Regions from separate parts of the Homo sapiens genome. Here region 1 is linked to region 2. The links come from fine-mapping of genetic effects on gene expression. A gene starts in region 2. The other region holds a variant in brackets. All regions are shown on one strand. Distances are between the middles of the regions. Region 1 overlaps SIPA1L3 (signal induced proliferation associated 1 like 3). Region 2 holds the start of SIPA1L3 (signal induced proliferation associated 1 like 3).

The links. PIP is the estimated chance that this variant, and not a neighbour inherited with it, causes the effect.
Region 1: its variant is fine-mapped to the expression of SIPA1L3 in aorta (GTEx, PIP above 0.99). The same link has a PIP of 0.9 or more in atrial appendage.

Annotation. Positions count from the first base shown.
Region 1 is chr19:38,169,901-38,175,272 of GRCh38, reverse strand. The region is part of intron 15 of SIPA1L3 (signal induced proliferation associated 1 like 3); the gene reads right to left. Among named protein-coding and RNA genes, the nearest start is that of SNORD152, 9.5 kb to the right of the region's middle. RefSeq lists an enhancer at 4,272-4,833. The variant T/A (reference allele first, on the strand shown) is at 3,032.
Region 2 is chr19:37,904,928-37,910,299 of GRCh38, reverse strand. It overlaps SIPA1L3 (signal induced proliferation associated 1 like 3), which reads right to left and starts at 3,092. Exons shown (of 22, transcript NM_015073.3): 1 at 2,942-3,092. WDR87 (WD repeat domain 87) reads left to right here and starts at 3,706. Exons shown (of 6, transcript NM_001291088.2): 1 at 3,706-3,801. RefSeq lists an enhancer at 2,381-2,440 and a silencer at 2,741-2,980.

The sequences.
Region 1 (5,372 bases), 260 kb before region 2:
GGCAGTGACAGTGCTGACCACTCTGAGCCTGTGGAAGCTGCCTGGCCTTGTTCTAAGCATCTTATAGGCGTCACCTCACTTAGCCGCCGTAGCAACCCCGAGACAGGAACTACCACCACCTCCATGTTCCAGGTGGGGGAAACTGAGGCCCAGGGAGATGAAATAACTTGCCCGAAATGATGTAGCTAGTGGGGGATAAGAGCCAGGATGTAGACATAGGTAGTCTGGTTTGAGAGACGATATTTTAACCACCATTCTGTACTCCCAGTGACAACAACTGTTAACGATAAATATCAATACATAATACATGAGAATAAAACACAGCAGCAGCTGATACACTTGAGCCCAGCTATGTCTCCAGTCCTGTGATAAGTGCTTTAAACTCATGGTCTCAGTTCGCCCTCACAACTTTAGATGGAGGATCCTTTTTTTTTTTTTTGAGAAAGAGTCTAGTTCTGTCACCCAGGCTGGAGTCCAGTGGTGCCATCTCAGCTCACTGCAATCAAGTGATTCTCTCGCCTCAGCCTCTCGAGTCTCTGGGACTACTGGCACCCGCCACCACACCTGGCTAATTTTTGTATTTTTAGTAGAGGCGGGGTTTCATCATGTTGGCCAGGCTGGTCTCAAACTCCTGACCTCAGGTGATCCGCCCGCCTCGGCCTCCCAAAGTGCTGGGATGAGAGGCGAGCCACCGTGTCTGGTTGACAGATCCTATTACCCCCATTTTACAGATGAGGACATTGAGCCTCAGAGCACCTAAGGGGCCTGAGAGAGATCACGCAGTTGGGGTAAGAGGTGGAGCTGTGATGTAGACATAGGCAGTCAGAGGAAGAGCCCTGAAGTCACACTGCTCACCCACATACCCCGAGGGCCCCCAGCCACTTGGCCTTCACCCTGGACCAATCTTGCTTTCTCTCCCTGACGTGTGTCATGGGCTGGAGAACCAATTCATCCCTGCATGCGGCTGGAATTGTGCTCCAGTGTAGGAGCCGTAAGCAGCCACATTGCCCCTGTGGCCTGTGGGGCAGAAGCGACGGGTCTTCAGGAAGCAGACACAGAGAGGGTCTAGGCAAGAGATTCAACAGAGATACCAATCAAGCCACTGCTCGCTACCTCCACCAACCACTGCCACCTGTATTGTCAGAGCGGCCTCCTCCTGGCTCCCTCTTCCTCCTGCATCCTTCCCCAGCCTCAGCACACAGCCAGAGAGATCCTGGGAACATGTGAATCAGATCAGGACTCTCTCAGGGTTCCACCTCACTCTGGGTAAGACCCAGAGCCCTCCCGACAGGGCCCCCCATCTGCCCCCCTCTCTTCTCTGCCCCCAGCTCCTCCACACTCCCTCTCCTTCACTCTGCTCCAGCCATGCGGAAGCTGTTCCTCAAACACATCAGAAACACTGCTACCTTGGGACCTTTGCACTGCTCCCCGCCCTGCAGATCTCTGCCTGGCTTCCGCACTCCCTTGAGTTCCAGGAGACGGCCTCGCTTCCTCTTCCCAAGCTGTGACTCTCCGAGGAGGTCTCTGTCTCAGGTGACCCCAGCCTCCCAACACTCACAGGCAGGGTGGGCCCCGGTGGATCTTCAGGCCCTCAGATTACCTTTCAGGGCTGTGTCCCCAGAAGGGCATCCCAGGGACTCCTGGCGCAGCCTGGGGAAGCAAGGCCACGTGCTTCCTGCCTGCCTGGGAACGCCCGGCTGCGTCAGCTCCATGTGGAGCCGAGAGCCTATGACTGCTCCTAACAGCTCTGACAAATTGCTCTGGAAGCCCAGAAAGCTCTGGAGTGCGTGCTGCCTCAGGAGAGGGCGAGGGCCAGGTGGCTGCCCGCCCAGGATCACTCAGCCCACTGCGGTGCCCATGGCAGGCACTGGCGCCTGGCAGCATGCCTGGCAGCTGGGCTCCCATGACGAATGTCTGGAGGGAGCATCTGTGAGGTCATCGATGGGCACAAGCTGCTACAGGCTGCACCTGCTTCCACGGCAAGGGCCGCAGCCCGGGGAAGGGAGGGTAGGGGGCTCCCCGCTTGGGCGTGTCAGGACCCATCCCTCTCCTGGCAGCCTTTGAATGCTGACCACCATCCTCCCCCTGCCCAAGATAGTCCGTCCTCTCCAGAGTAGCCCACAGTGATCTTTTCTATTTTTTCATTTTTACATTTTATTATTATCATTTTTTGAGATAAGGTCTTACTTTGTCACCCAGGCTGAGTGCAGTGATGTGATCTCGGCTCACTGCAGCCTCCACTTCCCGGGGTCAAGCAATCCTCCAACCTCAGCCTCCCAAGTAGCTGGGACAACATGCGTGTGCCACCACACCCAGCTAATTTTTTGTAGACATGGGGTTTTGCCATGTTGCTCAGGCTGGTCTTGAACTCCTGGGCTCAAGTGATCCACCTGCCTTAGCCTCCCAAAGTGCTGGGATTACAGGTGTGAGCCACTACGTCCAGCCCACAGTAATCTTTTTAAAAACATTAAGTCAGATGATGTGCTCAAATGCCTCCCATGGCTCCCATGTCCCTTGGAACCAAATCCCAGCATCTGACTTTGGTCAATATGCCCGCTAGAACCAGGCTCCTGCCACCTCACTATGCTGACCTCCTGCCACTCTCCCCCCATCCCACCTGCTTCAGCCCCTCTGGCCACCTGACCATTTCTGGAGCATTGAGAGTAAGTTCACCCTCAGGGTCTAGTCATCTACTGTTTCCACTGCCTGGATCTCACCCTGGCTTCCTACAACGCATCACCTCCTGAGAAGCCTTCCCAGAGACCCGCTGTTTTTGCCTTTCCTCCCCAGCACTTATCACCTCCTGGCACACTCCACGGTGGTTCGGCTGTCTGTCTGTCTTGTCCTGTCTCCAGGAGAATGACAGCTCCATAAGGGAAGGATGCTGCGACACCTGGCACAGAGTAGGGGCTGCAAAGGTCAGTGACTGGAAGAATCAGTCCCCGCTGGCTGCCCCACTCTGCCTCCTCTTCTCACAAGCACCTCAGGTGCTCCCAGGCCACGGCAGCCTCCAGACACGTGGCAGCCACCC[T/A]GGACTCTCACATGGCTTGCTGGCTCTGCCCTGGGCCTGCATCTCCCTCCCAGCTTACTTCCTGGCAATGCCGCCTGCTGCCACATCCACAGTTGCTTTGTCCTCCAGCTCAGGCCCACGTCCTCCCATGCAGATCCAAGCCTCAGCCCCCTCAGAGACTTTGCCTCCTGTCTCGCTGCCAGCACCATATTTTGGAACACAAATCCACCCGCATTACCCTGGCTGCTCTTAAGATGAGATCCAAACTCCATAATGGAGCTGGTAGGGCCCTGAATGTTCTGGCCACTGCTGATTTCCCCAACCTCCCATTGGCTGCCCTACCTGCCTACCTACCTACCTACCTCCAGGGCCTTGCTCTGTCACCCAGGATGGAGTGATTGATTGATCAACAGGGTGTCAATCAGTTACCCAGGATGGAGTGCAGTGGTGCAATCACAGCACACTGCTGTCTCGAACTTCCAGGCTCAAGTGATCCTCTCACCTCAGCCTCTTGAGTAGCTGGGACTGCAGGAGCCTACTGCCATACCCAGCTAATTTAAAAAAATTTTTGGCCAGGCATGGTGGCTCATGCCTGTAATCTCAGCACTTTGGGAGGCCAAGGTGGGTGGGTCACCCGAGGTCAGGAGTTCGAGACCAGCCTGGCCAACATGGTGAAACCCTGTCTCTACTATAAATACAAAAATTAGCCGGGCGTGGTGGCAGGTGCCTGTAATCCCAGCTACTCGGGAGGCTGAGGCAGGAGAATCGCTTGAACCTGGGAGGCAGAGGTTGCAGTGAGCTGAGACTGTGCCATTGCACTGCAGCCTGGGCAACAAGAGCGAAACTCCATCTCAAAAAAAAAAAAAAAAAAAAAAAAGTTTTGGTAGGGGGATAGAGATGGGTCTATGTTGCCCAGGCTGGTCTCAAACTCCTGGCCTCAAGTGATGCTCCTGCCTTGGCCTCCCAAAGTGCTGGGATTACAGGCATGAGCCACTGTGCCCAGCCACAATTTCTATACTTGAGCCCAAGGGCCTGTGTTCAGTGGCCTGACGATACCACCCTCCTCCCTACCACAGGGACTTTGCACACGCAACTCTAATTCATAGACATACTTTCTCCACGCCTCATCTTTCCCTTCTGTTTTTTTGTTAATGGTAAATAGTCATATATACATTCTTCTGAATGAGAAATTCAACAGACTTAAAAAAAAACATATGTGTGTATATATACATAGTTGTATATATACATACTGAGGTTCACAACATATATTGAGGCCCAGAAAGTGTGTGTGTCTATATATATGTTGCATATATACACACAATTTCAAAAACAGAGCAAATACCTGTATAACTGCATCCCAGATGAATGTCTCTCCAGCCCCACTGAACCCCTCTCCTCCTTCACCCGCTCCCTCCTCCCTGTCCCCCTCATCCTTGGCAGATGTGACCCTCGTTCAGGAACATTATCGCTGGCCCTAGGCTAGATTAGACACCTCCTCCAGCTCTGCATCCCATCCACCCTCAGACCCCACCCGTCTCTGCAGGCTGTCCCCTGGCACAATTCATTCATGACTTTTGGCATTATTCACTAGCTGTTTCCCATGGGCCTCCGTCCGTACCAGGACGGTGGGGATCTGGTCTGCCTGTTCCAGCTCCCTGCAGAGGCCCCGGTGCACAGCAGGCGCTCGCTGTGTGAATAAATACCAAGTTCTATGCCACAGAGTGCTGTGGAGGTAGACATAGGGCAGTCAATGAGTGCTCATGCTGGGCCTGTTCAAAGGTGCCTGCCTTCCAGGAGCAGAGGCTGGGGAGCAGGCTGTCACTCCAGCCCAGGGGCACGTTCTGACGACAGCACATGAGGGGGGCTGCTGGGCTGCCCGGTGCACAGTGCAGTGTGGCCGCCATGGGAGGCAGAGGCACGTGTGGCCACTTGAACCAAGGTCTGGCCCCAAGCAGGTGGCTCTGTGACCATCCAGGGAACTTGTGCCTACTGAAATGGGAAGACTGTGGGAGGCCAATGGAGTGAGGTGGGGTGAGATGGACAGTGGGAGTCCGTCTCATTCTCTGTCTGGACTGCTTTTCCCTCCTGACTTCCCTGGCTAGCTCAGACTCTTTCTCCAGGAAAGCCCCTCCCACAACTGGGCTGGCCCCTCTCACAACTGGGTTAGGGGGGCCCCCTTTGGGCTCTCACATCCCTGTACCCCTCCATCATGGCCCCAACCCCTCTGCCTGGCCCCCCTCCAGCCCACCCTGGCCCCTCTACCTGGGCCCCTCATCTTACCCTGGCCCCTCTACCTGGGCCCCTCATCTCACCCTGGCCCCTCTACCTGGGCCCCTCATCTTACCCTGACCCCTCTTCGCAG
Region 2 (5,372 bases):
CTGCACCCTGCCAAATAGCCTCTCATTCTAATAGCTAAAAACAAACACTTTATTTTAAAGGAAATGATTATTGAATTCTTTTATTAAAATGTAAATACATTTAATTTACATTTTACAAGTTACTAAGACTATGTTTGAAATATATCAGTAAAATATATTTTACAGCAAAAAAATGAGGCACCAATCACTGCACATTCTAAATTCCACTTTTGATTTACCACCTAACAACTGCAATGTCTGAAACACAGACTCACATTTAACTCTTAGATCATTCATTCTACACTGACTGCTAAAAAGCCACGTGCTGCTTTTTTTTTTTTTTTTTTAAGCCACTGCTTTACTTCTTCAGGTTAGCAAAATGCTTAGGTAAATTTGTTGGCCATCACAAATGTGATTGAGGCCACCGGTTTCTATCATCAAATGAAATCACAATGACAGGTTTCTGACAATAAACTCAACCTAAGGGGAGCGCTAATAAATTCCCTTCCCAGCCTCTTCTTGGGTGTGTGGTATGTGTGCTGCCTCCTGAAATGCCCAGGATGGCCACCCTCCCACACGGGATATTCTAAGCCGCTGACACCATCTAACTTTTCTGAAAGAAATTAACAACTCAGCCGATCTTTACCAGGCTAAAATCACAGAACTGGGTCCCCTGAAAGCCAGGCTTTCATGCCACATCCACAGCCACTGCTGTCTAGCCAAGTCTATAACATCTTCTTGCCCTTATTAATACATATGTTACATAGGTTTACGTATGTTAATCCCTAATGACTTGACTTAACCTTGTCACAGCCAGGCGCGGTGGTTCATGCCCTACAATCCCAGCACTTTGGGAGGCCAAAATGGGTAGATCACCTGAGGTCAGGAGTTCAAGACCAGCCTGGCCAACATGGTGAAAACCCCATCTCTACTAAAAAAAAAAAAACTAACCACGTGTGGTGGCGGGCACCTGTAATCCCAGCTACTCAGGAGGCTGAGGCAGGAGAATTGCTTGAACCCGGGAGACGGAGGCTTCAGTGAGCTGAGATTGTGCCACTGCACTCCAGCCTGGGCTATGGAGCAAGACTCCGTCTCAAGCTGAGGGGAACTTTCAGTGCCCATCAGATGGGAGACCAATATGGGCCAATGAAATGGTGTTTCTATGAAATGGCAGCTTCGTCCTTCTTGCTAGTTGACTGGATATGGGAAGGCTGGGGAAGAAGAGCAACTCCCAGGTTTCTGGCTTAGGCAACCAGGTCAATGCTGGCACATTTGCCAAGATGGTGACTACTGGTTCCAGGAGGAGAAGGAGTTCAGGTTGGACATGCTGAGTTTATGGTGCCCAAGAAACAGCCACTTCTTTGAGCCACAGCATCAAAGAAGCACAGGCTCCACATCTGGAGCTGGAGTGCAGGGGACTCAGTGGCTTTGGGACACAAAGGCAAAAGCTGGCAGCACCAGGACAATAATTAAAGCACTGGAGTGAACATACTGGCTCTGTGGGGAGGGGTGTGTGAGCAGGGGACTGCTGATGGCAGGTCAGACCCATTTCTTCTTAGGCCTTTCTACTATAGTGTGTTCCATAATTTAATCTTTGGTAAGTAAAATTTGGGAGGGAGGGGGAAGATAAAAAAACACTAACTTTGTGCTCACTCTGCCATGTAGGTACAAACAGAAGCAAAAAGGGCCTATTAAAAAAAAAAACAGCAAGATACATTTAATCATTTAATAAGCACTTACTGTGTGCCGGGCCTTGTGCAAAGCACTAAACATGAATTATCTCCTGGAACCATCCAAACAATCCTGGCACAAAAGTCCTATGACTACCATTCCACAGATGGGACACTGAGGATGGGAGCAAATGTGTGGGGGAGCTCAGGGCTGTCATGTCACAGCCCACAGTCAGGCAGTCTCTGGGCCAGATGGAGAATATTGAAGAACAATTATAATACATAAGAGCTGCTACTTAGTGAGAGATGGCGCTGGACTAGAAATACAATCTCAGCAAATCCTTACAACCCTTTGAGAGTGATCTTGTTATTATCCCATTTTGTAAATGAGGAACCTGAGGTAGTAGGAAGGGAAGTCAACTGGACCAGTTCTGAATCTGGCCCTCGGGGGTGACCAATACTACGGCCAGAGCCCCACCCTCAGAGGGTCTCTGGGCCACTAGGAAAACGCTGAATAAATGGTACCATTTACTGAGCGTTATATGCCAGCTGCTGTGCTAAGCACTTTACACATGGTATTCTCACTGCATCCTGAAAACAACTCGACGAAGTGGTTGCTATTTAAATCCCCATTTTATAGATAGGGAAACCAAGGCACAGAGAGGTGAAGCCAGTTGCCCAAAGTCACACAGCTGGTAAATGTTCAAATTTGAACCTGGGGTCTCTCTGCCTTCCAAACCAACGCTCTTAACAAAATAATCTCGGTTAACAGCAGCTAGCCTGCATTGGGTGCTAACTAAGGACTCACCTCTTTACATGCACACGCTCAACTAATCCTCACCCTATGCAATCGATAACATCTTCACCTCATTTTTCGGAGAGCTAACAATAACCCAAATACGTAGTAAGTGCCTCCTATGTGCCAAATGTTTTATTATATTATCTCAACAGAGTCTCCGCCAAGATGCTCTCCTACTCCGTTTTACTGCAGGGGAAATTGAGGTTCGGCGCGGTTTTCCCAGATCGCGGCTCCCGAGTGGCACAGCCGGGACGCGAATCCACCGCTCCCCGCCTCCAAGCTCTTCACCACAGCGCCGGGGTGCACGCCTGGAAAGTTGAGCCATGCGGGCACGAGTCCGGCTGGGTCCGGAGGGCGCGAGTCCCGGCGCCGCCGCCCCCCACGGCCAGTACCCACACCCGGCCGTCCGCCCGCGCTGACCCTCGGGGTCCGGGCAGCCACCGATTCCCCGCCACCCTTGCGCGAGGCCGATCCTGCACCCGGAGCCACGTACCTGGACGCCCCGGCTGCCCGCCTCGCGGGCCCCACGATCGCGGCGTCCAGCTCCGCGCCGCTCGCTGGAGACGCCGCCAGCTCCGGTGGCCCGAGTGACTTCCAGGCTGCCCACTTCCAAGCCGCTTCGCGCGAGTCCTCCTGGGAACTGTAGTTTCGCCCTAGCCGGCCGCGAACTCAAAAAGAGAATGGCGCGCGGGGGCTGCCGGGAGCCGTAGGCGCACCGCCGCGCTGCCTCCTAGGAACGGTAGTCCGCTGGTCGCCTTCGTGCAGCTCCAGTCTGTAGAGCACTTCCGCAGCCCCGAGGGGCGTGAGGGAGGGAGGTGTGTCTCCTGCAGACTACAGCTCGAGAGCCGCGCTCTTCGCCCCGCCGGGGCGGTTTCTCCTTTCTCCTGGCCCCGTCTACCTCCTCCCTTCATTCGGCGGAACCTCTCCCTCACTCTCTGCCAGGCTCGAGTCACTTACCCCTAGGACGCTAGCCCGGGGGAAACGGGGGAAGCGGAGCAGTGCGCTAGACCCCCAGCGGAGGGGGCGGTGGAGGAGGGCGTAGATGCACGCCCGCGCACGCGCGGTCGTCGGCAGACCCCGGCCTAAATTGCCGCGGGACCCCGCGGAGAGGATTTTTTTTTTTTTTCTTTCGAGAGCGCGCGCGCGTTCTCGCGCCGGGCGCGCGCCCATGCGCACGCGCGTTCAGACCCCTGGCCTCGGGAAGTCCGCCGGCTGCGGGGTTGGGGGCCAACCGTTCTGTGGGCGGAGTCCTCTCGCAACATCCGCCAGGTAGCTTCTTAGTTGCTGCCCCTAGCTCTAGGAGCTCCTGAGTGCACACGCCGTACCCGTCCCTTGTCGGGAATCCTGTCGCAGGTAACAGGCGCAGCCAATGCTTTGAGATAGAGACGCCCTGCCTTCCCTGCCACGTGCAGGAGGCCCGAGGGTGAGGGGCCCCAGGTGTAGTCGCCTGTCCCCGGCGTAGGCGGCTCCAGAGCTCTGCCTTCGACGGGAGCCACAAGACCCAGGGGCTGCCTAGGGGCCTTGTTATCTTGCATTCTTTTGTTGATCGCACATTCCTGAGGGTAACTAGTGTTTGTAGAGTACCTACACCTTGGGAAATTTTGTCCAAATTTAATCCACCTGGTGACATAACCAAGCAGCGGAATACCCCGCAACACACACTCCTTTTTTAAGGTATATTGCCACTCCTCCATAAGAGTTACCGAGGGAATTGACTGGAATTGCAAGGTCCTCTGGTGGAGAAGCCGGAGTCAATACCCTTTCCGCCTCAGCCTGCCTTCTAGGAAGATGTTCACTAACACTTGAAGCTGGGAAGCATATGTTTCTTCCTGGGAGAGCACATTTTTCCACTCATTCAACAAAAATGGATTAACCACCTATTCCATGTCAGGTTGGGTGATTATGGAGACACAAGAGAAATCCAGACAGACTGGACTCCTACCTTCAGGGAGTTTTCAGTCCAGTAGGGATATCAGGCCACCACCAGACTACAACAATGTAGAGCAATACTAGCTAAGAGAAATATACCCTGCACTTTGAGCCACCGAGGCAGGAGGATCACTTAAGGCCAGGAGTTGGAGACTGGCCGGGTAACATAGCAAGACCCTATCTCTACTAAAACTAAAAAACTAGCTAGGCGTGGTGGCATGTGGCCATAGTCCCAGCTATTTAAGAGGCTGAGTATCGCTTAAGCCCAGGAGTTTGAGACTGCAGTGAACCATGATTGCACCACTGCCCTCCAGCTTGGGCGACAAAGCAGAACCCTGTCTCTTTAAAAAAAAAAAAAATTATATATGTGTGTGTTTTTATGTGTAATGCAAGCCACATATGCAATTTTAATTTTGACATAAACAGGTAAAATTCATTTTATTTATCATTATTATTTACTTTTTTTTTTCTTGCTATGTTGCCCAGGCTGGTATTGAACTCCTGGCCTCAAGACATGTTCCTACCTCAGCCTCGCAAAGTGCTGGGATTATAGGCGTGAGCCATCTCACCCAGCTATGAAATTAATTTTAATATTTTATTTAACCCAAATATATCCAAAATATTATTCCAAGTTAGGTTAATGGAAAAATGTTTTCATTGCTTCAGTTCTACTTTTTTTTTTTTTTTTTTTGGAGACGGAGTCCCACTCTGTCGCCAGGCTGGAGTGCAGTGGCGCCACCTCGGCTCCCTGCAACCTCTGACTCCCTGGTTCAAGTGACTCTCCTGCCTCAGCCTCCCAAGTAGCTGGGATTACAGGCAGGCGCCATCACACCCAGCTAATTTTTGTATTTTTAGTAGAGACTGGGTTTCACCATGTTAGCCAGGATGGTCTCGATCTCCTGACGTGATCTGCCAGCCTCGGCCTCCCAAAATGCTGGGATTACAGGCGTGAGCCACCATGCCTGGCCTCAGTTCTACAATTTAAGTTAATTAAA